4 linked regions of the Homo sapiens genome follow. The protein of the gene in region 1 interacts with the protein of each later gene in a pairwise test. Each region holds a gene or a part of one and is shown in the gene's direction. Other genes may lie near its edges.

Region 1 (6,811 bases):
ACCCTAAATGTAGTATTTTTAGAACCCTTTCCTAGACTCTCCTCCTTCCCCCTAAGCAAGACTAGGACATCATTCTCTTCCTTCTCCATCCCTCATGGCTCTGGATTTATTGTCAACTCCCTGAGTGCCTGTGTAACTGCAAAAAGTTCAAAAACCTGACTGCTCCTACCTCAGGGGCATGGCTTAGCCTCTGATCATCAGGTCTGAATCATGAAAACTCCTGGAGCTACAGGTTCATTTCTGAACCTGGAGGGGAACAGGGAATTTGCTGGCGCTGTCTGACATTTCTCAAGCACAGTGGCAAGTAGAAGTTGAACTTGTGTACTTTTTCTTGGCTGATCCTTACCTGCTTCAATGAGTTGGCACTTGTTGGGTCTTAACTTGTCTGTGGCATTGTGTTACAAGACCAGAGCACAAAGCACAAAGTTGTTAGGTAATTTTCACCAGTAATTCACTGAGATGATTGGTAGATGCCAAGTTTATTTTAACTCATGAATAATCTGTTGTGTGACTTTTTTTTTTAAGCGTCTTGCTCTCTTGCCCAGGATGGGATACAGTGGCATGATCATAGCTCACTGCAGCCGTGACCTCCTGGGCTCAAGTGATCCTCCCCCCTCAGCCTCCCAAATAGCTGGGAGTACAGGCACGCACCACCACACCTGACTAATTTATTTATTTATATTTATTTTGTAGAGACAGGGTCTCCTATGTTGCCCAGGCTGCTCCCAAACTCCTGGGCTCAAGCAATCCTCCCACCTCAGCCTCCCAAAGTGTTGGGATTACAGGAATGAGCCACTGTGCCTGGCCTGTATGACTTTCTAAATCACTTCTGAGACTTAGTTGGAGACAATACAGCAGAGTTGTTGTGTATGAGGGGTCCAATGTCAGAAGTACCTACATTCAAATGCTGATTTCCCCAGTTAATACTTAACCTGCCTCAATTACTTCAGTAAAATGGGGGATAATAGCAACACCTACCCGATGGGCTGTTGTGACAGTTAAATGAGCGCGGTGGTGCATGGCAAGACCTAGCTGAATGTTAGCTTTTTATTAATAGTATTTCTTTAAAGGTTGTTCATTATACCCTTGCTCACTGTCCTCGTCCATTTTCTGCTTCCTATAACAGAATGCCACTGCCTGCGTAGTTTATAATGAACAGAAATTCATTAGGGTCACAGTTCCAGAGGCTGGGAAGTCTAAGGGCATGGCGCTGGCATCTGGCAAGGGTCATCCTATGGCAGAAGGCAGAACCCAGCACATGAGACAGAGACAGGAAATCAGGCCAAAGTCATCCTTTTTATCAGGAGCTGCATTCCTGGGATAACTAATCCACTCCCAAGATAACGGCATTAATCCATTCATGAGGGCTGAACCCTCATAACCTAATCACCTCTTAAAGGTCCCACCTTTTAATACCATCATCATGGCAATTAAATTTCTTTCTTTTTTTTTTTTTTTTGGTGGAGAAGGGGTCAAACTATTTTACTGAGGGGAATGGGGTGTCAAAGAAGTACTTAGGACCATGAGATCCAACATCCTTGGCTGGACTGGGAGCTCCCAGGCTCTGCAGGAGGTGCAAGAACAGTTAAATTTCAACATGAGTTTTGCTCTTCAAACCATAGCACCTCCATTGGGGGTGGGGAGGTGAGGTCACTCTGTATCAGTGGTTCTCAACTTCATGCAGTGGAACTGCCTAGGGAGCTTTTGCAGATCCAAGGCTAGGCCACACCCAGACAATGATATCAGAACCTCTGGGCTGGGGACACAGACATCAGTACTTGGGAAGCTTCCAGGTGATTCCAGTGAGCAGCCATGGTTGAGACCCACAGTATAACTTGACTCCTAATGAAGATGGGTGGAAGCAGAAGCTTGGGTTCAAATCCTGGCCTTTCTGTGTAGCCCAGTGACCATGGGAAAATGCTTAACTTCTGAGTCACAGTTTCTTCTCGTCTGTACCAGTAGGGGCGAGGAGGATAAAAGCCACCTCACATGATGGTCCTGCAGAGAAGATGACATATGTGCAGTTATTCTTGTTTGAGCACATAACTGAGCACTTTTCTTTATACCATTATATGGCAGTAATCCTACTTGTGTGCTATTTTTAAGTTGTTTTTTATACCAGCTGTATCTTAAGTAGATTATAAGCTCCTTGGGACAGAGCCTTTATAGAGTCTTATAATACTTTTATGCCTATAGCACCTAAGATACAGGGACAGGCCTTCAGATTTTTAGAACTGGCACAAACCTTAGAGAGATCTTCTCGCCAACTCTAAAGTGTTGAATAATACTTGCTGGTTAATTAATATGCAAGTGGTAAAGAATGTGAAAGAGGAACCTGTGAGTCAGATGGTTGTGCCCAGCTTCAGTTGGAAGTCCCAGTCCTTCCTCTCCCAGCTAACAGCACTTTCTTTCCAGGGTTAGTTTGGTGCTTGCTTGGGGTAGGGGTGGAGAAGGATGTTGGGATAATCAGAGCTGAGAGGGTGAGTGTGTCTACCATGGCACTCAGCTCACTGTGCTTCTCTCCTGGCAGACCCAGTCATGGCAGCCTCCAGCATCAGTTCACCATGGGGAAAGCATGTGTTCAAAGCCATTCTGATGGTCCTAGTGGCCCTTATCCTCCTCCACTCAGCATTGGCCCAGTCCCGTCGAGACTTTGCACCACCAGGCCAACAGAAGAGAGAAGCCCCAGTTGATGTCTTGACCCAGATAGGTCGATCTGTGCGAGGGACACTGGATGCCTGGATTGGGCCAGAGACCATGCACCTGGTGTCAGAGGTAAGGAAGGTAGTCCCTGTGTGACTACACACATTAAGGAAAAATAAAAGAAGAAAGGTTGGTAATGGCCACCTCATCTTAGTTCCACATCCTCTCTGGTGCAGAGAGCCCCAAATTCCACAAAAAGAAGCCACACAGCACTTGTCTTTGAATTCCTCGTTATTTGATTGCTGTCCTAGGGCCTTTTAGCTCCACCCCTATCCTTTCCTGGCTCCTGCCCTTTCCTTGCCAGAAAGGCTGGGAAATGAGCCATCTTTATAAGCCCATGTTACTGGGTGACTGTAGAGTCTCACTTTGGTCTAAATCTGACCTAGAATCTCGAAATGGCAAAATATCAAGTCCTGAATCCATTCCTTCACCTGCAGAAGTGGGTTGAGCTTATTGGGAGCCTAAGGCAGGGTTATCTTTTTTTACCTGGTGGCATCCCAAGCATGGTATCACATACTTTTGATAGGCTGGACTGAAGGGCTGAGACAATCATTTATTAAATCCATAATATAGTATAGCTGATAGACTCCTTTTTCACTGGAACATCCTATCCCTTTACAGATGTTCTCCACGCACCTTCATGACTCCCTGGACAGCTAGCAGGCCTCCAGTTTTATAGGGTGACTACTAAAAGTATTTGATTGTCTCCGTCATTCACACACAAGTACACCTACTACTCCCTCCAAAGTATCCCAGCAAAGCAGTTAAATTATGTCCCAGATGCCCTAGTTTCCAGTTCAGGAAGGAGAGACAGCCTGTTGGCCATCCCTGTAGACTAGAAGGTGGATGTGGAAGGGACCCCTCAGCCAGGCCCAAGGCCCCTACCCTCTGACCCAGGCCTGTCACCACTGGGTGAGAAACAGGTCTGAGACATTCCTGCAGTTCTTGCCTGGACAGTGGTGATCAGGCGTGAAGGCGAGGACCGTTGTTCATTATGAACTCATCTCGCTCCGTGCTCTTTCCACAGTCTTCGTCCCAAGTGTTGTGGGCCATCTCATCAGCCATTTCTGTGGCCTTCTTTGCTCTGTCTGGGATCGCCGCACAGCTGCTGAATGCCTTGGGACTAGCTGGTGAGTGTTCGAGTGCTGGGTAGTCAGCCAGAGCTTTGCCTGTACTTTCCTACTTGTGGGAGTTCATCTTTGTCAGGGTCTAGCCTTTTCCCCAAGCTGCTTAACCCTTCCCAGGATTCTGCAGAGACATGGCCAAAGAGCAAGCCAAGAACTACCATGGCCAGGTGTGGTGGCTCCCGCCTGTAATCCCAGCACTTTGGGAGGTCAAGGCAGGAGGGTCACTTGAGGCCAGAAGTTTGAGACCAGCCTGGGCAATATAATGAGACCTCGTCTCTATAAAAAATTAGCCAAGCATGGTGGCGTGTGTCTGTTGTCCCAGCTACTTGGGAGCTGAGGTGGGAGGATCGCTTGAGCCCAGGAGGTAGAGGTTGCAGTGAGCCGGGATCACGTCACTGCACTCCAGCCTCGGCGATGGAGCAAAACCCTGTCCCACCCAGACCCCCTAAAAAAGAACTTCCGCCACCACGTGCCAGTTGTTCACTTCCTATCAGGCATCGTGCTGAGCTGTAGTATCTCATTTAATTGCCAGCCACAGTACAGGGAGGCAGTAGAATTGTTCCCGTTTAGTAAATGAAACTGCAGCTCAACAGAAGCAAGTAATCTACTCCAGGCCTCACAGCCAGCAAGAAACAGAGCTGAGATTCCAACCCATATCACTCTGAGTCTGCGAGAACGGCTTATTCCTTTGCAATGTGCCTAGCACCTCCCACCCTTTTAGCTCTTGCCCCGCTCTCCCCTCACCACTTCTCCAGGTTGGCTGACTCTGTGACTCTCTTGGCTTCCAGGTGATTACCTCGCCCAGGGCCTGAAGCTCAGCCCTGGCCAGGTCCAGACCTTCCTGCTGTGGGGAGCAGGGGCCCTGGTCGTCTACTGGCTGCTGTCTCTGCTCCTCGGCTTGGTCTTGGCCTTGCTGGGGCGGATCCTGTGGGGCCTGAAGCTTGTCATCTTCCTGGCCGGCTTCGTGGCCCTGATGAGGTCGGTGCCTGACCCTTCCACCCGGGCCCTGCTACTCCTGGCCTTGCTGATCCTCTACGCCCTGCTGAGCCGGCTCACTGGCTCCCGAGCCTCTGGGGCCCAACTCGAGGCCAAGGTGCGAGGGCTGGAACGCCAGGTGGAGGAGCTGCGCTGGCGCCAGAGGCGAGCGGCCAAGGGGGCCCGCAGTGTGGAGGAGGAGTGAGCCGGATGCCCCACACACCGCCAGTGTCATACCAAAGAGCTGAGCTGCTTCGGGGCCATGCAGCCCTCCTGCCAGCCCCCTGCCCTTTTCTTGCCCTGTCTCTGAACCTTCAGAACATTGATCCTTGCCGCAGCCCCACTAGCCAAGAGAAACAGAGAAAGACCATTCCCCCTGCCTGTCCTTGCGGCCCTGTCTTCTGAGGTTCTCTGTCTGGGGTTGGCTCTCTTAACCCTTTCTCTGCTCCCAGCCTGCCTCACCAGGGAAGGTTGGAGGGGCCTCCCTCTGGCTTCTGCATCTGCGCCAGCAAACATCACTGCCGTTGGTCTCTCATGACTTAACTGGCTTCCCTCTGCTGCTGCCTTGGCTTCCTCCTAATGCTCGTGCTCTCCTGTCCTTCTGAAGTTGCTCCTTGGCCAAATCTCCAGCTCCCTTCTTGTTTTCCTCATCCTCCTACCCTGTACTCCCACCAAACCATGGTCCTTTAAGGCACGCTCCTGTCCTCCTCATTGCCCAGCAGTAGGGAGGGGCAGGGGTAAGGGGACCTGAGGATAAAGGGTGGGGAAACAGGGTCCCCTGAGGCCTGTGGGGGCTGCAGGGGAGGAGGATGTACCTTGTGTCTCTTTCAAGTGCCTTAATCCGAGCCAGCAGGGCCTTCTGCTTGCCTGCTGCCATACTGTATGTAGGAAAGTGTTCTGTGGCTGCTTTGTGTCAAGAAAAGAGCAGTCACTCTCAGAATCTTGATTCCCCATCAGCCAAAGCAAAAGATGGCTGCTGCTTTGTAGGCATGTGCCTGCAAGTGGGACCTTGCTGGGCATTATATGCCCTGTGGGGGTTTCAGAGACCCTGAAAGAGGAGGGAGGACCCGCCTCCTTGTCTGCACAACTGCATGCACTTCTCTCCCCATCGCTCCACAACCTGAAACCGAGAAGGAGTTGCTGACCAGTGCCCACCCCGGCAGCCCGGGAGGAACACAGGCAGCTCCTTTCCCTTCACGTGGTCTGCAGAGAGCAGGGTGAGCTGCCAGCTGCCCCTCTCCACCAGGGTACCCTGTCTTGGTGGTTAGGGGCCACTTTTCCTTTGAGGCTCTAGTGGAGGTGGATGTCCTTCTCTGCCAGGCTTGGCACATGATGTGAAGAATAAATGCCCAATTCTTACTGTTCAGGTTTGATGTGGAATCACAGCTGCAGTGATATATATTTTTTATCAGTGCTTGGTTGGTTTTAAATAAAGTGCACGCTATTTTATTATCTTGTTCTGAATAAAATGTATTTACTCCAAGTCTGGATTGCTTCCATGTCTCCTCTACTGCTAAACCCATTTCTGTAGTGCAGCTCCGCCTCCCAATTTCTCCCTGTGGGGGCAGTGTGAAGCTGGCAGAGGGGAGAGCTGAAAAGGCAGGCTGGTACCAGGTACCCTTCCCTCCAGGAGCACAAGGAATTAGGAAAGCATGCCCCCATTACAAAACGTAGGAACGACTGGCACTGCTGGAAATGCGTGTGCTTGCTGGGCAGAGGGGTCACCCCTTCCCTGCAGTGTGCTGAGGTGGGTGGGCAGCCTGGAGAAGACTTGCCTGCCCTCCCCTTCACCACCCACCTGAGGACTTTCCTGTGCCAAGGTTTCCAGTCGGCCCACAGGCTGGACCAATTTTGCGGAGGGCCTCAGACATAATTTTTTCTTTGTAAGCTGCCCAGGGCATGAGAGTGTGCAGCTGGGGCCCCTGCTCTGGGCCTCTCCCCAAACTGCCTGGTAGGCAACACTGGGTCAGGACCCTTGAGGCTGGCCTTCCCTCGGGAGTGTTGGG
Region 2 (7,025 bases), on another chromosome or scaffold:
TGACCTGTGGAACCAGCCCGCTGCAGTGTGTGCCCCCCAGCCCCCGGAGGGGCAGCGGGCATGCCTCAGAGAGCAGCTCAGAGTGAAGACGGTAGAAGGGGAAAACTGATGAGAATTATTGTGAATCATGGTGGGGAGGAGGGGTTTTAAGAAGTTAGGCCTGTTAGGCTGGGTGCGGTGGCTCACACCTGTAATCCCAGCACTTTGGGAGGCCGAGGTGGGTGGATCATCTGAGCTCAGGAGTTCAAGAATAGCCTGGCCAACATGGCAAAACCTCGTTTCTACTAAAAATACAAAAATTAGCTGGGTGTGGTGGTGCGCATCTGTAATCCCAGCTACTTGGGAGGCTGAGGCAGGAGAATCACTTGAACCCGGGAGATGGAGGTTGCAGTGAGCCGAGATCGTGCCACTGCACTCCAGCCCGGGCGACAAGAGTGAAACTCCATCTCAAAAAAAAAAAAGCAGTTAGGCCTATTTTGCTGTGCTAAGAGAAACTTACTTTTAATGAACTGAGCTGCATGCCTATCCCAAATTCTGTTTTAAGGAAGATGCTCTGACCACAGTGTCAGTTTGGCTCTAAAGTTTCAAGGGATACTGAAAGGGAATATTGGAACCAAATGAATCTGAATGGGAATCCCAGGTCTGTCACTGTCTGTTTTAGACCTTGGAAACATTACTTAACCTCTTTTGAAAATAAGGATTTACCATCTTGTTGGTTGGTTTGTTAGGATGATTAGATACATTCCAGATCAGGGTAACTCTCCTAGGTTAAAAGCAGGGACTGAAGCCAGGCAATTACCAGGGATGGAAATTTTAAAGCTGACGGCAGAACACACACCAGAGCTGCTGGCTCGTGGAAGCCTTTGAAGTGATGATTTGATGGGCAATCTGAGTTCCTCAGGAGCTGCCCAAAGCCTCATAGGCTCAGGAGCCATGCTCTGCTTTCAGAGTACTCAACCTGGGCCTTCCCCTACCTGTGTGAGATGTCTGCTGCTGCACCCGCACGTGCCCCAGGATCGAAGGGAGGCCTCAGAGTCCTGCCCTCACAGTGTCCCCCATGTCTGAAGGCAAAAAACTTGGAATCACTGTGCATATACTATTTTGGATGCTCGCTTTCTTGCTTTCTCACTTTCTTGCTTTCTCTCTCTCTCTCTCTCCCTCTCCTCCCTCCCCACTCCCTCTCTCTCCCTCTCCATCCCTCTCCCCACCATGTCCTGCTCCTCTCACTCCCTCCCTCCCCCTCCCTATGTAATGTATACTTTAGCATTTTACCATGTTAAATATTTTTTCAATAATGTGATTTTTGTTGGCTATATTATTCTACAGCAACGACTACTGCAGTGGTGTAGATAAATCTCATAATGTTGATCAGAATCTCCCAGGCACAAAAGAGAAAAAAAGATACATGACTGTATACTTTTCTGTGTATAGACTGCATAGTTGAGTAATTTTTAAATTATTTTATATGGTACTGTCTTTGATGACTTCTCAGAAACATCAGATTGATTCATACCTTTTTTTGGTCTCTATTTACTCATTTGCCAGTAATAAAGCATCTTGCTCCCTAAGGCTTCACACCATGAAATAGCCACAGTGCTGGGGGCCGTCCCAACGTGTTCTTTCTTCCACAGACGCAAGATGGCTGTCCTCTCTAAGGAATATGGTTTTGTGCTTCTAACTGGTGCTGCCAGCTTTATAATGGTGGCCCACCTAGCCATCAATGTTTCCAAGGCCCGCAAGAAGTACAAAGTGGAGGTAAGTGGGAACACAAGCTGGTGCCCTTGTAGGCTTGTCTGGGGGCCACAGGCTTAGCCAAGAACTTATTTTCAGCCATGGAGGGAGAGGCAAGGAGCTAGTTGTGAGAAGTGGCAGTTTCAGGACTGTGTTAGCGATTCTGCTTCTTCATGGTAGGAAAGAGGCAAGAAATACAGGGCCCTGCTAGGGAGTAGTTTCCATCTTGTTTGACTTTGTCTCTTCGGTAGAAAGACCAGGAATGCTGGGATTCCAATAGTACACTTCTGCTTGGAGCTATTTGCTAGGAAGAGAGTTACTGTATTTTCCACAGAGGGTTAAATAGCAATATTGTTTCATGGTGTGCCACTTTAAAAATGATGTCTTATGGTGATTTTCCTGTTTTCCAAGTAGAAAAGAGGTATGTGGTGTTGAGATTAGCCTGGACTTAGACATAGGAAGGTGGTCTATTAAACACTTCCTTTAGTTTTAGGTGATCTAGAAGGGATAATTACCAAAGTTGTCCCTGGTGAGTGGTTTTAAATGTCTGTTTCTGTTTAGCAACTTAATAATTAAACTCCCTTACTAGAGCTTCTTTTAAGTTTTTATATTTAGTTTCTTCTTTTTTTTCCCTTCCAGTGGACACTTCCATTAAGATTCTCACACACTCAATTTCTGTTCTTCTATTAAGGGAAATCTTAAAAGGATGTGGTATTTGATGACTCTTAGGAAGGCTCTATTTCCCTACAGTATCTTTGTAATGCATCTGAAATCCACCATTGATGCTTAACGTCAATGAAAAGCACGGAGTTTGGCGCAAAGCTGCCTCTTTCCCTTGTGCAACTACAGCGCAGACATACATTCTTATTCCTGGATATTTAATAGAAACATTGACTCTGCTTCTGAGAATTGAGACCCTTGTCACCATAAATATTTAAGCAGAAATTGAATGGTCATCTATCAAGGGTGTGAAAGAAGATACTTTGGAATATATTGTTTTTAAGGTTCATTTTAACTTTCAACACTGAATGCTCCTCTTGACCATCTGATCAGTATGTGCTTTGTTGTGACAGTATCCTATCATGTACAGCACGGACCCTGAAAATGGGCACATCTTCAACTGCATTCAGCGAGCCCACCAGAACACGTGAGTGTCGGCCCTGCCGGGCACCAAAGACATCTGCAGAGTGGGTGTTTTCTGTCTAACACCTCAGCCCTTAGTGCGCTGTATTTGCTGAGTCATAGTGATGGTGACAATCATGGGCACCTCATTAAAAGTATTCAAAAATTATGTATGTGAACACATTGACTATTAAGCAAACTTAAGAGTGGTTGGAATGGTGGGATTTCGGGATATTCTTTTCAAAAAATGTCTTCATGGTTGCATTACCTACTACAGTTTTGCAGCATGACCCATCTAAACCGATGTTGACTCTCCCAGGCCTAGGGAGTGAAGAGGTTTTGAATGCTGTAAGGAAACCCACTCTGACTCACCAGGACCTTCCACTTCCATTTGTTAGATGTGAGGTCCTTTTACTCAGCATGTTCCAAGTGACCTCTAATCCCATGCAGAGCAAAGGAGGGTGGATGATAGTGACCAGGTCTTCTCCCTGCGGTGAATGTTTATTTTTACCCCCAAGCTTCTAACTTGGCAAGGAAGATGTAAAGATTCATAGTGCTGGCTGGGTGAGGTGGGCTCACACCTGTAATCCCAGCACTTTGGGAGGCCGAGGTGGGTGGATCACTTGAGGTCAGGAGTTGGAGACAAGCTTGGTCAACATGGCAAAACCCCATCTCTACAAAACTTAGCCAGGCATGGTGGCACGCACCTGTAATCCCAGCTACTCAGGAAGCTGAGGCATGAGAATTACTTGAACCCGGGAGGCGGAGGTTGCAGTGAGCTGAGATCATGCCACTGCATTCCAGCCTGGGTGACAGAGACACTCCGTCTCAAAAAAAAAAAAAAAAAAATTCATAATTCTACACAGGCATACTTAAAAAGGGCACTTTTTAAAAGTTTCTTTCTGTCAATTCCAGGTTGGAAGTGTATCCTCCCTTCTTATTTTTTCTAGCTGTTGGAGGTGTTTACCACCCGGTAAGTTTTCCAGGAGGTGTTCATCTATTTGGATAGTAGTTCACTGAGCTATTATCAGGGACAGAAGAAGGAAATAAACATTTAATGAATATCTTCAGTGTCTAGGCACTGCATATTTAAAAGGATTTTATTCAATTATTTCTTACAGAGTTCTTTAAAGGAGATGGGATTTTCCTCATATTTTACAGATAAGGAAAAGCCTCTCATATACTATTTAAACTTCACAAGGTCAAATAGCTACAGAGTAGAAGGATTAGAATTTGAACTCAGGTCTGTCTGGTTCTAAGTTTCATGTCTATAAGAGTTCATTTGTTATAGTAATTCATTCACACAACAAACTTTCACTCACCACCTGGGGTAAAGCAGTGATCAAAGCAGACAAAGACCCCTGGTTTCATAGAGCTTGCCTTTTTGTTGTGGGGTGTGGGGTGGTCACAGAGAAGAAGCAACCTAAGTAAATTACATCATGTGTTAGGAGGTGGTGAGTGCAGAGAAGAAAACAAAGTGGGGAAGGTGGAAAGGGGATGTGGAGTGGGATAATTTTGAATAGGGTGGTCAGGGAGGGGGGCTTTGCTGAGATGATAGTTAAGCAAGTATAAAAGGAGGTGAGGGAGCAGGTGCTGCACGAGTTTCCCCAACCTCCAGCCAGAAGACAAGCAAGGCCTGAGGCAGGCACCTGTCTGGTTTGTTTGGTGAGCAGTGAGAAGCCAATGGAGCCAGGAGAGGGGCAGCAACAGAGGGCAGAGGGGTGATGAGGCAGGTCACTGGGGACTTGCAGGCCTCTGCAGTATAGATAGCCCTGTGGGATGGAGATTTAGTCTGCACTTAAACATATCTAAATAAAGCAAGTTTATCAGCCTCTAATTAATTGCCATTTGGGTCTTGTCTTAGACAGAAGTGTTCCCCTTTTCTGAGGACAGATTATCTCCTGAAACCAAGTTCTGACCAGAGTGGCCCTTCAGACTTCTGGTTCTAAGCCTTTCCTAACCATCTGGTTCATCCTGAATGCCTTGTACTTTTGTTAAAAAGCTGCCAGAATGGCATATCTACTGCTTATGACCTTGAAGGCCTGCATTTTTTTCAAAGAAACATCTACTGCTCTTGTATCTCTTAGAAAATGTATCTTTCTGGTGCCTCTAAAGATCCCCATTCCTAGCAAGTGACTAGACTAGCTGATCTGAATAGCTCAGGTCTCTAGATTAGTCCTCATTTGGTGTCCCCACTCCATCCCCATTCCTATCACACATCCCTGGATCCCATTCCTTATGGGTAGTTCTGAAAAATAAGAGCTAGTTTGGGGACAAGCACCTAACAATTGTTCCTAGGTTGCCAGTCATTAGGCAACATTATAGTAAAGAAGGGCCTGGCAGAGACTAGAGCTGCTATATCGTGACTTGAGGGACTGGTGTTATTTTCATTTGTTTCACCCTCCTGTTGACATTTAATGTTACCCAAAATCAACTCAAACAAACAAAAACCCTGATGCAGTAACCTTATCCCTAACAGTAGCACTGCTGAGTGGGAAAGACACTGGGGAAGGCGGCCTTCTCACATGCTGTCTTCTGTGTTCTCTCCTTGCTTATTTTAACCAAGGAAGTCACCCCAGCATGACAGCCAAAGGGATGGATTTTTCATCTAAGTTTTTATTCTCTCTTCTCAAGGACATTGGGAACAGGGAGACTTTTCCCTCGAAGACCATGTATTCTGGGAGAAGCGCTCCCCTTCTTTCTAGTGGAGCTACACCCCCAGTGTAGCCTGCAGAACCACCTGAGCCCAGCCCTGCCAGTGACTGACTTCACATAGAACAGCAGCTGAGTCTTCAGTCAATCTCATGCTCAGAGGCCCATTTGAGAAAACGGCATTTCCCCTAGTCCTGACTTTGGGGCAGTTCTCTTTTCTGGCCTGCCCTGAGACCGGCTGGCCCACATGTCCTTCTCTTGAGCTCTGACACAAGTTCCCCAAGATGCCCAGGGCAAGTGGGGGGATTCCTTCTATCCCACCTGTCTAGGAGAAGGCCAATACTCATCTCCCAGGTCCACAAGCCAAGCCATTCATAGAAGAATCACAGATATTTTATTTTCCCGCTGAAACTAACTTAATTCTACCTAATTTGCGTGGGGAGTAGTTGGCCAAATCATCAAATTGTTAACTTTTTGCTAACATATTGTGTAATCAACCCTAGGTGTTAAAAAAGGTTTGCTTGTTTCTTTCATGCAAATACTAATGTAGCCCTTTTTTCTTAGCGTATAGCTTCTGGCCTGGGCTTGGCCTGGATTGTTGGACGAGTTCTTTATGCTTATGGCTATTACACGGGAGGTTAGTATATATTGACATTTGCCAAGGAAACAACTTTAAAATTTTAAATCCTATGCTGGCCAGGCACAGTGGCTTACACCTGTAATCCCAGCACTTTGGGAGGCGAAGGCAGGCAGATTGCTTGAGCTCAGGAGTTGGATACCAGCCTGGGCAACATGGTGAAACCCTGTCTCTACAAAAAATACAAAAATTAGCCGGATGTGGTGGTGCACACCTGTAGTCCCAGCTACTTGGGAGGCTGAGGCGGGAGGATTGCTTCAGCCCAGAAGTTTCAGGCTGCTGTGAACCATGATTACACTACTACACTCCAGCCTGGGAGACAGAGCAAGATCCTATCTCAAAAAAAAATAAAATCTTATGCTACTATATTTTTTTTCTTGGGAATTTGAGAAAAGGGGAAGTCACCTGATATTTAGGTGAAAGGTCTGTTTTCTTTTTATTAATCTTTCAATTGTAACGAAACTTATTTTTATTGAGCATTTTCTATGTGCCAACCACTACTCTAAGAACTTTGCATATGTTATTTAACCTTACAACAATTCTGTAATACAGATATTATTGCATTTTACAAATTAGGAAACTGGGACTCAGCATGATTAAAGCTGTAGGTCACAGAGCTACTAAGCGTAAACTAGTAAACTAGGAATCAAACCCATGCAGTCCGACTCCAGAGCCTCACCATTACTATACCTCCTATATCTGAGTAAGGAGGAGGAAAAGCCATTTTTAGCTGTACTTCTTTGAAACAGAGGGAACTCCTTCCAAAGGTCCTAGAGCAAAGTTGCTGTAATTATTATCCCATAATTTTCTAAGATCCAAGCAATACTACTGTGGCACGTTACTTGGCATGTGGTATCTGACTTGCCAACAGCTTCAGGCTAAA
Region 3 (7,334 bases), on another chromosome or scaffold:
AGCTCGCTGGCTCCTGCCTGGCTACTCTACTCTCCCTTCCTTCCCTGTCTGTGATAACTAGTACGCCAGGTTGGGCTAGGCTAGGAACCACTGAGTCTCTTGGGATGGTTTTGTTCGTTTCTGCTCTGACCCATTATTTGAATGTCACAGCTTAATGCCCAGGAGGTGAGGGTACTGTCCTTGTTTCCAAGTTCTCTGGTGGGGGAGCACCTGAGGATTTTTCCCCCAGGAAACACCTACACCTTCCCTGTATCCAGCAGTTTCCATTTTCCAGTAACAGAGAACACCTAATGTCAGGCACTAGGCAAGGCCCATCCCACTTTCTCTCTATAACTATGCTGGAGGGAGGGACTGTTATCCTGCTGGAGAGACAGATAAGAAACAGGTATGTAAAGGTCAAGTAGAATGACCAAGGTCATGTAACTTGTAAGAGACCCCACTAGGATGCTGTCTACAGCTTAAACTGTTAGTGCATCTCCAGTAATGTCTATTTCAAATAACTGCTATGTCCCAGGTGGCTACTTCCTAAATAGAATTTAGAAATTATCATTCTCAATTATTGAAATGTAATGAAAAAGTAAACTCGGGTACCACCTTTGTACCTCCTCAGTCCCCAGTGTCTAAAAAAGGTGCAAGTGAGTGGAGGGAGAGGAGGGAGAGTTACTTTCCTCTAGAGAGGAAGTAACTCTAGAGGAAGTAATGTTTCTTTGAGGGTTACTCAAAGGAGGAAGTGAAGTAAAAAGGAGAAGTAACACCTTCATGAGGGTTTATAAGGGAGGGGCCTGTCTGATGCTGGACAGCATGCTTTCCTCCATGAGGAAATAACTAGAAAAGAAGAGGAAGCGGAAAGAAAATGTGCAAAGGCCCTGGGGCAGAGAAATGCTGAGAGGAACCACTGTGGCCAGAGGGGGAAGGCGAGGGCTAAGATGTTTGAGAAGTGGCCGTGGAGGCTCTTCAGGCTGGAATGGCAGGACACTGAGTGTATATGAAGATGTCCCGAGCCGTTTGAGACCCTCAATTTTCATGTCTTCCATTCTAAAGCTTATCTGGCTGATATGGACCTGGGTGGGGACATGCACATGCTCCTGCATGGCCTCCCCTCTCCACAGTCTCCCATCTTCCCCTGGGCAAAGAAAGGCTCCCTTCCTATCTAACCTGAGTCTGACCCCCTTCCTGTATACAGTGTCCTGAGGCACAAAAACATCCTCGGCACCAAACAGAGACACTTTTGGTGTCTCTTTCAGCAAGACTCCAAAAATCCCCTCTCTATCCATCCCTTAAGTAATGCACTTTTAAGACAATTTTCCTTTTTATGTTTAATAATTATTTATCAGAATACATATTTGTGTATGATGTCTTGATCACTTAAATACCATTAATCATTGTTATAATCACATAATCCTAAAGAGAATTTTAGAGCCTTATTAATTAATCATTAATTAATTTTTGAGGCAGGGTCTTGCTCTGTTGCCCAGGCTAGAGTGCAGTGGTGTGATCATGGCTCACTGCAGCCTTGACTTCCTGGGCTCAAGTGATCCTCCCACCCCAGCCTTCCAAGTAACTGGGACCCCACGTGTGTACCACGATGCTCAACTAAATTTTAAACTTTTTTGTAGAGGGTCTCACTATCTTGCCCAGGCTGGTCTCAAACTCCTGGCCTCAAGAGATCCTCCCACCTCAGCCTACCAAAATGCTGGGATTACAGGCATGAGTCACTGTGCCTAAACTTTTTTTTATACTTTCAACTTTTGTTTTGGATTCAGGGGGTACATGTGCAGGGTTGTTACACTGGTATATTGAGTGATGTTGAGGTGTGGGGTATGACTGATCCTGTCCCCCTGGTAGTGAGCATAGTACCCAAGAGTTAGTTTTTCAACCTTTTCCCCCCTCCCTCCCTTTCCCCTTTAGTAGTCCCCACCAGGGTCTGTTGTTGCCATCTTTATGTCCACGTGTAGAAAATTTTAAAAAGCTAATGCATATTCACATATTTATTGTGGTTCACATAATAGATAGGTGATGAATACAGAATTTAAACAATAAAAGCATTAGGGTAGGATACAATTCTGTTGGAAAACGGAATGGAAACATACTTAAAAGGGGTAAAGAACACAATGTAAATATTTTGACTGTTAAAGGGATACTTGTTTATATTCTTAAGTATAACATGGCAGTTTTGTATTCTTATACAAATTCCTTTGGGTATATTTAAAAGAGAGAGATAATAATTTTATACATAAAGGTCAATAAATACAATATACCCTATTTAAATATATGATTAAAAAACTCATTTTAGATGCCAACTTGAAAATGTGTAAGGCAAACATATTGTTAAACATTTTTTAGGGGGTTTCAACAAAAAGTCTGTTATAGGCCATAGTGCTCTAGGGGTGGTGACAGTGATCCGGAGGCGGGAACGCCGGGCTGGCATTGTCCCTGGAGCCATCTACATCCAGCTGGCTGGGCTGGAGTTTGGTGTGGCTTCCAGTGTTCACTGCTATGATGCTGCTATCAGGTCAGAATGTCAGCAGGGATTTGTCTAGGCTTTACTGTCTCCCCAGCATTAACCATAGTGCCTGGCACGTAGTAAGAGCTCAACACATATTCAGCGCATGAATGAGGGGCCGGCACTTACGGAGCTCTCACTTTGTGCCAGGCACTGTGCTAAGAGCTGCCTATGCATTCCCCTGGAATTCTCACAACCACGCTGCAGTAGGTCCAGTGAGTATCCCCATTCCAGAGATGGCGAAACTAAGCCACAAAGAGGATACATAACCAGCCCAAGGCCACCAGTCAAGGAAGTAGCAGACTGGGACCTGGGCATCCTGGCAGGCACCCTTTACCATAATGCCTCTCTGTCCCCATGTGGTCCCTGGGGTAGAGTCTGCATCCTTGGGTTCTGAAACTCCAGAGCAAGCACTCTGGGGCACTCCCTGAGTGATACCCTCCTGCCATCTTAAACGGCTCTCTGCCATCTGCTTCCTCCTCCTAAGTGGTTTTCCTTCTGTCCTCCCTGTTTAATGTTTAAGTTGTGCACATCCTGTGACATCCTGGAGACCCATGTTCCTGACCTACTTACCTATTCAACCATCTCTTCTCACACATGGGGTAGCAATGAGAAGCACAGGGGGTCTCTGCAAGGGAGTAGGGAGGTGGAGAGAGCGGGGGCAGCCACACATCACACTGCTGTTCTCAGTGGCCTCCTGCTGTCAACAAGCTAACATTAATAAAACAAGCCCACTCTTCTGCTAAGAGACTGTGACAGGGTAACATTTATTCTAGGTAGCTTTTCAAGAAAACAGCTCTTGCTCCCACGGTCCCCTCGGAGGGCCTGCAGAGCTCCAGCGATGTCAGAGGGCATCTGTTTGTTTCTCCTTTGCTTATAAAAGGGACCTGGAAATCAAAGGCAGGCTCTTAGCCCTTAGCAGTGAGGATGACAGCTCTGCACCAGCCACACGCAGGCCCCTGGCTCTAGGAACCACCTCTCACCCAGACGCCCAGGCACAGCATGGTGGGGAGAGAGTACAGGACACAGGGCCTAGGCCTGCTGCCCCGCCCACAGCCCGCCCCCTAGCCCTTTCTCTGAGGCCAGGTGTACTCACCTAGCCTCCAGGGTCCCCTGCTCAGGTGGCCCCAGAGGCCCAAACCCACTGCTCCCACTTTCTGAGACCTGGGACCCTCACCTCCCCAACTCCCACCATAGGGCGACACTGAAAAGTGTCCCCTTCCCCCCCCCGTTTCCAAGTCACCAGCTTGAGGATGCCCAAGGCTCAAAGGCTCCTCCGAGTGGCACCCCGCATCGGGCTGCAGAGGTCGGAGAGGGGAGGGGATGGTGGGTGCAAAGGGTGGCTTCTTCAGGAAAGGGAAGCCTGTCCCTGGCTCCCAGCACCTGTCACCCCTGGCGATCTCACCCCGCGGCCATCATTCCCGTCCTCACGGCCCATTTCAGGGACACTGAGGCTCAAAGAGCCACGTGATTTATTCAAAGCAGCTCGAGCCACCACTTGGAGCCACAAGAAAGCCCTGGTCCGTGCCTCCTCGCCTTGGTCCCTGGCCCTTCACTCTTCGTCCAGGCTCTCTGACCTCTTTCCCTCTGCGCCCCTGCCTCTTCCCCAGGCCTGGGTCCCCAAGGCACTCGGCCACGCGCTGGGTCCGGGGAAGAGGCGCGGCCGCGGCCGAGGCGGGGACAGGGAGGCGGCAGCCCCTCCTGCGCAGCGACGGCGCGGGCGGGCGGAGGCCGGGGCGCCCCAGCCCCCCGCCCCCGCTCCCTCCGGCCGTGACGTCAGAGCCGGACGGGGTAAACTGAGCGGCGGCGGCGGGGCGCTGGGGCGGAGACTGCGACCCGGAGCCGCCCGGACTGACGGAGCCCACTGCGGTGCGGGCGTTGGCGCGGGCACGGAGGACCCGGGCAGGCATCGCAAGCGACCCCGAGGTAACACGGCCCCGGTTCCCTGCTCGCAGGGCGCGGTGCCGGAGGGGAGCGGGCCCGGGGGAGGCAGGGAGGCAGGGAGGCCCCCAGAGCTACGCGGGCGGGGCTGCGGGGACCCCGGGGCAGCCGGGGCGCAGGGCGCAGGGCGCAAGGTGCACGGGGCCGAGCGTGCAGTTTGGGAGGTGGCACAGTTGGGGGCGGCGGGGATCAGGGCAGCGTCCTGGGGGTTCTAGGTTGGGTCTCCAGATTGGGTCCCCGACGGCGCTCGCGGGCGCTCTTTCCAGGGAGCGCGGGCTCTCGTGGGGACGCGCTCGAGGCAGGTGAGCCGAGGCTGGGGCGCCCGGGGGTGTCCCCGGATGCCGGTGCGCGCGGCTCCCTGACCCGCCCTTCCGCGGCCTGGGGGACGGGAGAATGGGGGGTCCACGGCCGCCTTGGGTCCTCACCGCGCACCGCGCCCGCAGCGGAGCCCCGGAGCCATGGCCCTGAGCGAGCTGGCGCTGGTCCGCTGGCTGCAGGAGAGCCGCCGCTCGCGGAAGCTCATCCTGTTCATCGTGTTCCTGGCGCTGCTGCTGGACAACATGCTGCTCACTGTCGTGGGTACGTGCGGACAGGGCACCCCTGCCCCGGCACCCCAGCCCCAGCGCCCCTTCCCCGGCACTCCACTTACCCCTGCGCGGTCCCGGAGCTCCGCCAAGGCCCGGGAAAGTTGGAGAACTCGCTTTGCAAAAAAGACATCCCCTCCAGGCTGCCGCGCCGGGGCTAGGAGGAGCCGCGTTGTGTGGCTTCGCTTTCCTGATGCTCGGGTCAAAAACTGTGACATCCGATAAGACCCAGAACTTATGTTTCCCCCTGATAATTTCCCGCATCCTCTTGCCTGCTTTCACTGCGATGAAAAAGATTTCTGTTCCAAAAGAGAAATTCCTAAAGTTCAAAATTACGTGTTAGAATAATTATTGGGCTACTCGAAAAGGCAGGTTAGTAATTTGGTGTAGTACCTAAAAGAGCAAGTTTCGATCCCTTACTCCAAAAACAAGACATTTAGATATACTGTATTAGTGAATGACTTGAGATGGAAATATTTCAGGAACCATTGCAAGAACAATTTGAACAATCTTGGTTCTATTATTTTTCCTATAGTGGAATTTTGAAAAATTAAATAATCGAAATCCAGGTCCCTTAATTAGGCCCATTAACAGAGAAGTATTTGGCATGCATTTCCTTAAAAAAAAAAATCCCAGTTTTTAATGAATGAAAAAAAAATCACGACTCATTTAGACTGTAAGTGGTGGGAGCTGTTTCCTTTCTCTCCATTTGCAGGTTTTCTCACAGCAGTTTTCAGAGCATCTGATAGGTTTCATCTCGAGGAGTTATCAGAGCCGTGGAGCTCATCCCTGTTCAGTACCAACGGCATTAGTTCTGCTTCGGCTCGAATGCTCCATTGGACACATGTGCTCACAGCTTCGATTATATGTTTCACAATTTAATTTGTATTTTTTGTTGTTGCTTTTTATTTTGGTTTTTGTTTGTTTTTTTGAAATGGAGTCTCACTCTGTTGCCCAGGCTGGAGGGCAGTGGCACAGTCTTGGCTCACTGCAACCTCCACCTCCCGGGTTCAAGTGATTCTCCTGCATTAGCCTCCCGAGTAGCTGGGTTACCGGCATGCCCCACCAAAGCTGGCTAATTTTTGTATTTTTATTAGAGACAGGATTTTGCCATGTTGGCCAGGCTGGTCTTGAACTCCTGACCTCAGGTGATCTACCCGCCTCGACCTCCCAAAATGCTGGGATTACAGGCCTGAGCCACCGTGCCTGGCCTGTTTCAGTTTTGCTTTTTCCTTGTGAAAGCCTTAGGAATTCTTAAATCTTACAAGTTGTAGGAAAAATTACAGATTCCCACTCATAATAGAAGGATGAAGTGGGCCTGTTGCAGAATTTCCAAGTTATTACTTCCTGCAGGTTAATTTTTTTCTAAGACACATAATGAAGTGTAGTTTTCTGTTTCCTTGATTCATTCATTTGAAAGTCTTTTGAGCCTCTCTTTCTTAGAAGCACTGGTTGACTCCAGGTCAGCACTCTCTTAACGTCAGGCCACATTTTGCTTTTCTGAAATATTCCTTGAAGGAACAATGTGGAAGAAACCCACAAATGACAGAATCTCTGGGACCAGTCAGTTCAGCACAGCAGCTGCCTTTTGAGAGGAGACAGTTCTCAGGGCCGTTGGGGGCATGGTTCTTTCTAGTGAGCTAAGTAAAGTGAACTTGCTCCAATGTCGTTATAGACATATGGCACAGGGCTCCTGTTTTGGGGTAGACCTGTCACCCTCTGGACCTCTTCTGGCATTTGACACAACCATAGTTTTGTTGTTGTTATTGTTGTTTTGTTTGTTTGAGACAGAGTCTCACTCTGTCACCCAGGCTGGAGTGCAGTGGTGCAATCTTTGCTCACTGCAACTTCCACCTCCCAGGTTCAAGCGATCCTCCTTTCTCAGCCTCCAAAGGAGCTGGGATTACAGGTGGGTGCCACCACGCCCAGCTAATTTTTGTATTTTTAGTAGAGAGAGGGTTTCTCCATGTTGGCCAGCCTGGTCTCGAACTCCTGACCTCAGGTGATCCACCTGCCTCAGCTTCCCAAAGTCCTGGAATTACAGGTGTGAGCCACTGCTCCCTGCCGACACAACCATAGTTTTTTGCTGGCTTTTTTCCTGGAGAGGGTTTCAGTGTGATCACCACCTTGCCATTCTGCTCTTATCCCCAGTCCCCATCATCCCAAGTTATCTGTACAGCATTAAGCATGAGAAGAATGCTACAGAAATCCAGACGGCCAGGCCAGTGCACACTGCCTCCATCTCAGACAGCTTCCAGAGCATCTTCTCCTATTATGATAACTCGACTATGGTCACCGGGAATGCT
Region 4 (7,025 bases), on another chromosome or scaffold:
TAAGAAGGCATGGAAAAGCAATTTCCTGAAAACTATTGTAACTACAAAAAAAGTGAATACCCTTTCCCTGCGTCTGCCTGGTATCCTGTGCATATCTCTATCATAATGTTTATTACATAACATATTTATCAGTTTGACTCATCTGTCCCCTCCCCTCCCATAATTAAACTACACTTTTTCTTTTTGAGACCGGGTCTTGCTCTGTTGCCCAGGCTGGAGTGCAATGGTGCAGTCATAGCTCACTGTAGCCTCAAGTGATCCTCCCACCTCAGCCCCTCGAGTAGCTGGGACTACAGGTATGCACCACCACACCCAGCTAATTTTTTTTTTTTTTTTAACTCAGGGTCTCACTATGTTGCCCAGGCTGGTCTCGAACTCCTGGACTCAAGCGATCCCACTTTACCCTCCCAGAGTGCTGGGACAACAGGCATGAGCTACCAAGCCTGGCCTTTAGACCACACTTTTGAAAATAGAGATTGTGTCCTTCTTCACTGTAGTAGCCCAGTATCAAGTACATAGTAGGTATACAAAAACATTTGTTCAAAGAAAAAGGAAGCAGGCAGGGAGATAAAAATCCCCCTGGAGTAAATAACATTGTTAAGTGTTTGCCTTAGCCTTATGTTGGTGGAGCAGTTTTTCTGTTTACCATTTATTTTATTAAGTTTGTTATAACTTAAGCTGTTGATTTTAGGGCATGGCCATTATGTTTATTATATATTATTACAGATAGACTATTTGTCTGGGTTTATATTATCAATAAAAGGATTATAATTGCCAAGATAATATATTGTCCTTAATAAGAAATCTCCTTTTATTTATTAAAGCATGGAAAGAGAAGTTTAGAGGTCATGGTTAGTAGAAAGAAGGAAGTGTGTGTCAATAGATAATTTTCTATTGACACACACTTGTTGATAATTAAAATAGATCATTTCAATTAAAATAATTTTCTATTGACACACACTTGTTGCTACATTCTTTTTTAATCTTTCTCTGTCTGCTGGGACTACTAAAGAAACTTGAACTCCAAGCATTTGGCCTCACATTTCAGAAGATTATCCTTGAAGATACAACCAATAAAGTCCTAAAGTCTCAGACAATGAAAACTATACTGAACTTGTGGTCCAGTTAAAGTGAGCACTATGGTAAGGTAGTAGAATATAGTGAAATGAGAGTGGAATTTATAATTAAAAGATTTAGGTTGAGATCACCCTACCATCACTTAAGAGATTTGTATGAAGGATGGTCCAAGAACATTTAGAACTCTGACTTACTGCCCCAAGTGTAGTCTGTTTCTCCTCCAGAGATAGAGTCCCCAAGCAGATTGTTAGTTGATATTTTCTCCATAGTGCCCAGATCCCAAAAGGTAATTCACTTCATAAAAAGTTTCTTCCTCTAAACTTATCAATAGTGATCTTAAAGTTGTGGTAATAATAATGGCTACTGCTTGTTGAATACTTCCTAAGTGTCAAGCCCTTTACATATTTTCTCGTTTTATCTCCACAACAACTGAGTGAAATAAATACTGTTCTTTTCCCCATTTTACTGATAAGAAAATTTAGTGGTAGATTTGGAATCTAACACCAAAAATGCAAGCTTTTAGCCACTGCTTAGCTGTTAATCACAGTGAAGAACTGAGAACTTTATCATCTAGTTTTCTTCTGCTTCCATTTCCCATTTTTAAATGAAAACGATGTTACCCTCCAAAGACTTATATGAGAAAAACTTAATTGTGAATAATTTTAAGATGTCCAAGTAAAAGAGCTGGGAAAAAAAAAAAAAACCTAAAAAGTGGGAGGGTTTTTGTTCTGTTTTCATGTATTTCAGGCCTAGATGAAATTTAATTAACTTAATACCCATTATGAAATTGTTTTTCTCTCCAATTTTCCTGAACATAAATGTTTTGGTGCTTCCAGACATGGGCCATGTTCAGCCCATTCTTCTGCTTTCCTGAATTCTCTAACGTCATGGTTGGAAAAGGTCTGATTTTTTTTTTAAAAAGAAAATACTTGAGGAAAGCAGTTGACAACTGCTTGGGCAGGAGATGGTTCTGTACTGTATCCCAGGATCCTGTCTGCTGTTTCAGTTTGTCTTATGTGAGAGGCAGTCTTTTTTTTTTCTTTTCCCCAAAAAAACAACACACTCAACTCATCCAGCAACTATTTAACAAATGTTTTTTGAGTACCTGTTATATACACTAAGTGTCTTCCATATTAGCTTATTTACTCATCACACTAACCTGAGGAGGTACTCTTATTAGCCCTATGTTTCAATGGGTAGACTGAGGCACAGTTGAATAATAAGGTACTTTCTCAAGATCACACAGCTAGTAAGTGGCAGAGCCATCTGTGAACCTATTATGCTATACTGTTTTCATAAAACCAAAATCTCATGAAGACACACAACTGAATAGAATAATTACAAGTGTGATAAATGTTGTTTTAAAAGGGTAAAGGGCTATTGCAGCATTATTTTAGACTGAGAGGTCCAAATTTAAAATTATTGCTGTTGCTCTCACCTATTTTTTTCCTCTTGTATGGCCTGAAACATTTGAATGCAGGAAAACTACAGAAAATCCTTAAAATATTTAGGAAATAAGACATTTATGCTTATTTACTTTCCTTATTCTTTTTGAGCTAAGCAAAGAATAACTGTTATTGCAAATCTTTCTTAGAAGTATTAGTCCATTTGTTTTCCTTAGTATTTCACAGTAAACACATTTTAAGCTTTGTAATTCAAACCACATAGTGCTTCATCAGTATCAGTTCTTTTGGTCTAGCATTTATAACTATAGATGGATTTTAATAGGGAGGAAAAGTTACAGTCTTCACTCATGGTTTTTAACTTGATACCATCTGGCCTGTAGCTACTCTAGCCCCAAGAATAATTTCTTCTCTAGAGATTTAAGGATAAGGGCATTCGAACAACTAAGCCGTGCCTAATTAAAATACTAATTTGAAAGGCAGGCTATAATGTGTGTGTGCTTGTTTGCTTTGAAATCTTCTGCCTTAAATGAATTGCAAGTTTTGATCTCTAATGAAACACTATCATTTTTTAACATACGTTTATCGAGACGCTACCATGTGGTAAACTCTGCCTCTTTCTCACTTCTAGCTTTTTTAATCTATCTCTCTTTGTAGGATTCTGTCTTCATTTTTGTTTCTCCCATTTTTACTCCTTCTATTTCTCTTATTTTCCTTCGCTTCTGCTATGTCCTTCCCTTCTTTGTCTTTTTCTCCTAAAATTCCAGTCATTTGAAAAACTTAGTTATAGTAAAAATTTGATTAATTGAAGAGGAATTTATATTCACTTACTCTACCTGCCCTTTTGCTTATTTTCACCAGGAGTTTTTGTTTATCAGGCCTTATAAAGGCCTTGCTTCAAAATAAGCAAAAGGGAGAAACTGAGAAGCTGGGAAATGTACCCTTATTTGAATAGCTGGAAGAAAGATCAAATGCATTATTTAATTTATGCAAGTCTTCCTCCTCAAATAAATAGTTGGCTGACATAAAACAGGAACAGCGTGTAACAGCCCATTGTCCAAATCTAGCTGACTCTGTTTCTGTATGTCCCACAAGTTATGAAATAGCTCTTATATTTTTAAATGATTTTAAAAAGGCAAAAGAATACTTTTTCATTACACATGAAAATTATGTGAAATTCAGATTTATGTCCATAAGTTTTATTGGAACAGCTGTGCTGTTTATGTAGGTACTATCTATGGCTTCTTTTGCACTGCAAAAGTAGAGTTGAGTAGTTGCAACAGACTGCAAAGCCCAAAATATTTAGTTCCTGGTTCTTTACAGGAAAAGTTTGCCAATCCTGACAAAGAATCACTGATGAAGAATCATAGTGGCCAAAAGTAACACTTAATCCTGAATACATATGTTTTTAAGAAGAAAGTTCAAAAATTGCCAAGACTTTTCAATTTGGCCTACTGTTACCCCTAAAAAGTGCTGCTGCAACTGAATAGCATGTGTTTTTGAGACTAAACTTCCAGCCTTTCTGTCTTGCCCCATCCAGGCAGGACTGCTCTCATCAATTTACAACATGAAGTGTTTTATTTGCACTCTGTGAAGGCAGAAGGAAAAAAGTGTCCGTTAAAAAGTGGCAGTTTAGGTATTTCAGTAATTCCTTAGCCCATCCTTTCTTATTGTGTAGGATAATGCTTATGACTCACAGTCAGATTCTCAGCAGAGGAAATCCAGTTATCTGTTGAACTTTACAATAATAAAATCTCAGTGATGAGTGGATTTATTACTCCACATGATTTCCAGTAGTGCTAAGGTTAATAGATCTGAAAGTAAATCAGCTGATGGGGAACGGGGACAACTACAGCCCTCTGGACTAATCAGCCTGTGTTGTCATCTTGGAAAGAATGTTTAACTGCCTTTCCAGAAACTTACCCAACAAAAATTACTACACAACAAATTTCATTTGTTTCATGGTTTGCTTGGTTTTCTTTTGTTTCTTCCTACAAGGTCTTTAGCCTTATTACTTTAGAACTTCAGGAGGCATATTTTAACACCTACTTCACAGATTTTTGTAAACATTATAAATACTCATGTATGTAAGGAGGAGCTACATGTGGCTAACATGTCATAGGAATTCATAAATGGTAGTTATTAGGAGTAGTAACAAAAGATACCTTCAGAATGAGAGAATTTTAAGAGTTGTATAATTTCATCTTTTCAGAAAAATTAACTTACACAGGAAATAAGCAGGTACAGAAACACTGCTAAATATATATTCAATGCAGCAGTTTCTAAGTGAGAAATTTGGACACAACAGATTTCATCATATAAAATGGAATTAATTAATTAATCTTTAATAATGATAAAGAATATGTGCTGATATGAAAAAATGTTCATAACATGGATGGGAGGGAGAAGATTTTAAATCACTGTGTATACCATTCTTTCATTATTGAAAAAATACAGGCTAGAAAAGGTTTAAAAGACGTATATCAAGGCAAAAAACATCCAGAGATAAAGTATAGATAATGTTTCTGTTTGTTGAGCTATCATTTCTAATTTTTATAGTAACTTTTGCTTTTAAAGTAAAAAAGCAATTTTAGAAAATGTATGTGAGTTTCCTGGAGGTAAGCCCAACTTGAATGTTCAATACAAAAATTCAAATGTACAGGCTTATGTCCATATTCAGACCCTTCTTTGATTAGTTAAAAGTTTATTCTACTGCCATTTTGGTAATAAAAGAAAAAAAAATACTCTAAACCAGGAGTCCCCAACTCCCAGGCCACAGACGGATCAGATCAGCAACATTAGATTCTCATAAGAGCACAAACCCTATTGTGAACTGCACATATGAGGGATCTAGGTTGTGTATTCCTTATGAGAACCTAATGTCTGATGATCTGTGGTGGAACAGTTTCATCCCAAAACCATGTTCCCCAACCCTTTCCTGTGGAAAAATTGTCTTCCACGAAACTGGTCCCTGGTGCCAAAAAGGTTGGGGACCATTGCTCTAAACTATGGCAAAGTAGTATTTACAACCAAGTATCATAGGATCCCTAATTTTTAGGAACATTCTCAACCAGCAAAATACCCACAAGTGGCCGGGTGCATTGGCTCACGCCTGTAATCCCAGCACTTTGGGAGGCCGAGGCCGGAGGATCACGAGGTCAGGAGATCAAGACCATCCTGGCTAACACGGTGAAACTCCGTCTCTACTAAAAATACAAAAAATTAGCCAGGCATGGTGGTGGGCACCTGTAGTCCCAGCTACTGGGGAGGCTGAGGCAAGAGAATGGCGTGAACCCAGGGGGCAGAGCTTGCAGTGAGCCGAGATCTCGCCACTGCACTCCAGCCTGGGCGACAGAGTGAGATTACATCTAAAAAAAAAAAAAAAAAAAAAAAAAAAGTCCACAAGTGTATTAACCAAAATATCACTATTTGTCCCTTTCCCCATAAAACTGGTAGGAAGGATTCAGTCCTAAAGTAATACATGGGAAACTTGAAGGAAATGAATTTCCTGAGATTTTAGTGAGTGAGAATTTCTTTTCTCTTATTCCCAGAAGTGGTAGATGACTAAGGGTTCATTTATAAGCCTGCTAGAGTTTAAGCCTCACCTCTGAGCTATGCATTTATAGCACAACATGCTATAAATAGACACAGCTGGAATTAAGAGGGCTTCCTCTGTAAAAACATCAGATTTCAGTCTCAGAACTCTAGTGATGCATTCCCAACTTAGATACTGTGTACCTTTTTGAGGGGTAACCAGGTGGGGAAGAATTTTGAGAGGTGAAGGTAGGATACTTTCATTTTAAAGTCATTAGAAAAATATGAAAGTGCCATTTTCCCAGTGTATACACTGATTATTTCTAGCCAAGCATTTGATATGTGAAAGACCAAATCCAGTTTTCAAAATGTGTACTTAATTCCTTGTTCCTGGTGATTTGCAATCCCATATACACATCTGGGGTTCTCAAAAACACAATGTGACATGGGAACTGACACAAAAAAAACTGGGCTGAACTTTTTGGCTTGTCCTCATGTAGATCATAAATGAACTTTTTGAGAGTCTTTGAATGTCCCAGCCTAGCCAGACTGGGGGCAGGTATGAAGCAAATGGCAAATTAAATTGTTTAAGAGGCTTTTGATCAAAAAGGGTAAATGCTATTTTCCCATTTTTCTTCATGAAGATACAAACACTTAAGTAAAATAGAAGGATTACAGAAAACTATCATCTACATTTACTGATCATTTTATCTGTATTCTACAAGGCCAGCCTAATAATCTTTACTTTCCACCGGTAAGGAAACTAAGGTTCAAAGAGGTAAAGATCATGCAACTAAGAAGTATCAGAAGTGAAATTCAAACATAGTTACTCCTCGTTCTCAGGGAATCTCAGTGTAATAAGGGATATAAATGCACAAGAAATTAAAATATTAGATTAAAAAATAATAAAAGATTAAAATCCTACATTGGAAGGTCAATTAAAAATAAATAAAAAATAAAAGATTAGACAAGATATAAGTGCCATAAGATAATTTTCAAAAAATGCTATCG

What was found.
Region 2: the proteins of TMEM109 (region 1) and MGST3 interact in binary tests that used the Homo sapiens proteins (3 or more experiments, as listed by UniProt).
Region 3: the proteins of TMEM109 (region 1) and SLC18A2 interact in binary tests that used the Homo sapiens proteins (3 or more experiments, as listed by UniProt).
Region 4: the proteins of TMEM109 (region 1) and STOM interact in binary tests that used the Homo sapiens proteins (3 or more experiments, as listed by UniProt).

What each region holds. Positions count from the first base shown.
Region 1 is NC_000011.10:60,917,156-60,923,966, forward strand, and holds the end of TMEM109 (voltage-gated monoatomic cation channel TMEM109 precursor), read left to right. Parts: intron 1-460; exon of another isoform or gene 461-1,998; intron 1,999-2,530; 5' UTR 2,531-2,538; coding exon 2,539-2,775; intron 2,776-3,730; coding exon 3,731-3,833; intron 3,834-4,618; coding exon 4,619-5,010; 3' UTR 5,011-6,288; downstream 6,289-6,811. UniProt on the Homo sapiens protein: Functions as a voltage-gated monoatomic cation channel permeable to both potassium and calcium. Plays a role in the cellular response to DNA damage.
Region 2 is NC_000001.11:165,648,210-165,655,234, forward strand, and holds part of MGST3 (glutathione S-transferase 3, mitochondrial), read left to right. Parts: intron 1-1,631; coding exon of another isoform or gene 1,632-1,638; coding exon 1,639-1,755; intron 1,756-2,804; coding exon 2,805-2,878; intron 2,879-3,768; coding exon 3,769-3,826; intron 3,827-6,069; coding exon 6,070-6,142; intron 6,143-7,025. UniProt on the Homo sapiens protein: Displays both glutathione S-transferase and glutathione peroxidase activities toward oxyeicosanoids, as part of cellular detoxification as well as synthesis of bioactive metabolites.
Region 3 is NC_000010.11:117,236,792-117,244,125, forward strand, and holds the start of SLC18A2 (synaptic vesicular amine transporter), read left to right. Parts: upstream 1-4,322; 5' UTR 4,323-4,429; intron 4,430-4,869; exon of another isoform or gene 4,870-4,887; 5' UTR 4,888-4,902; coding exon 4,903-5,023; intron 5,024-5,093; exon of another isoform or gene 5,094-5,206; intron 5,207-7,179; coding exon 7,180-7,334. UniProt on the Homo sapiens protein: Electrogenic antiporter that exchanges one cationic monoamine with two intravesicular protons across the membrane of secretory and synaptic vesicles.
Region 4 is NC_000009.12:121,360,233-121,367,257, reverse strand, and holds part of STOM (stomatin), read left to right. Parts: intron 1-1,012; exon of another isoform or gene 1,013-1,142; intron 1,143-7,025. UniProt on the Homo sapiens protein: Regulates ion channel activity and transmembrane ion transport. Regulates ASIC2 and ASIC3 channel activity.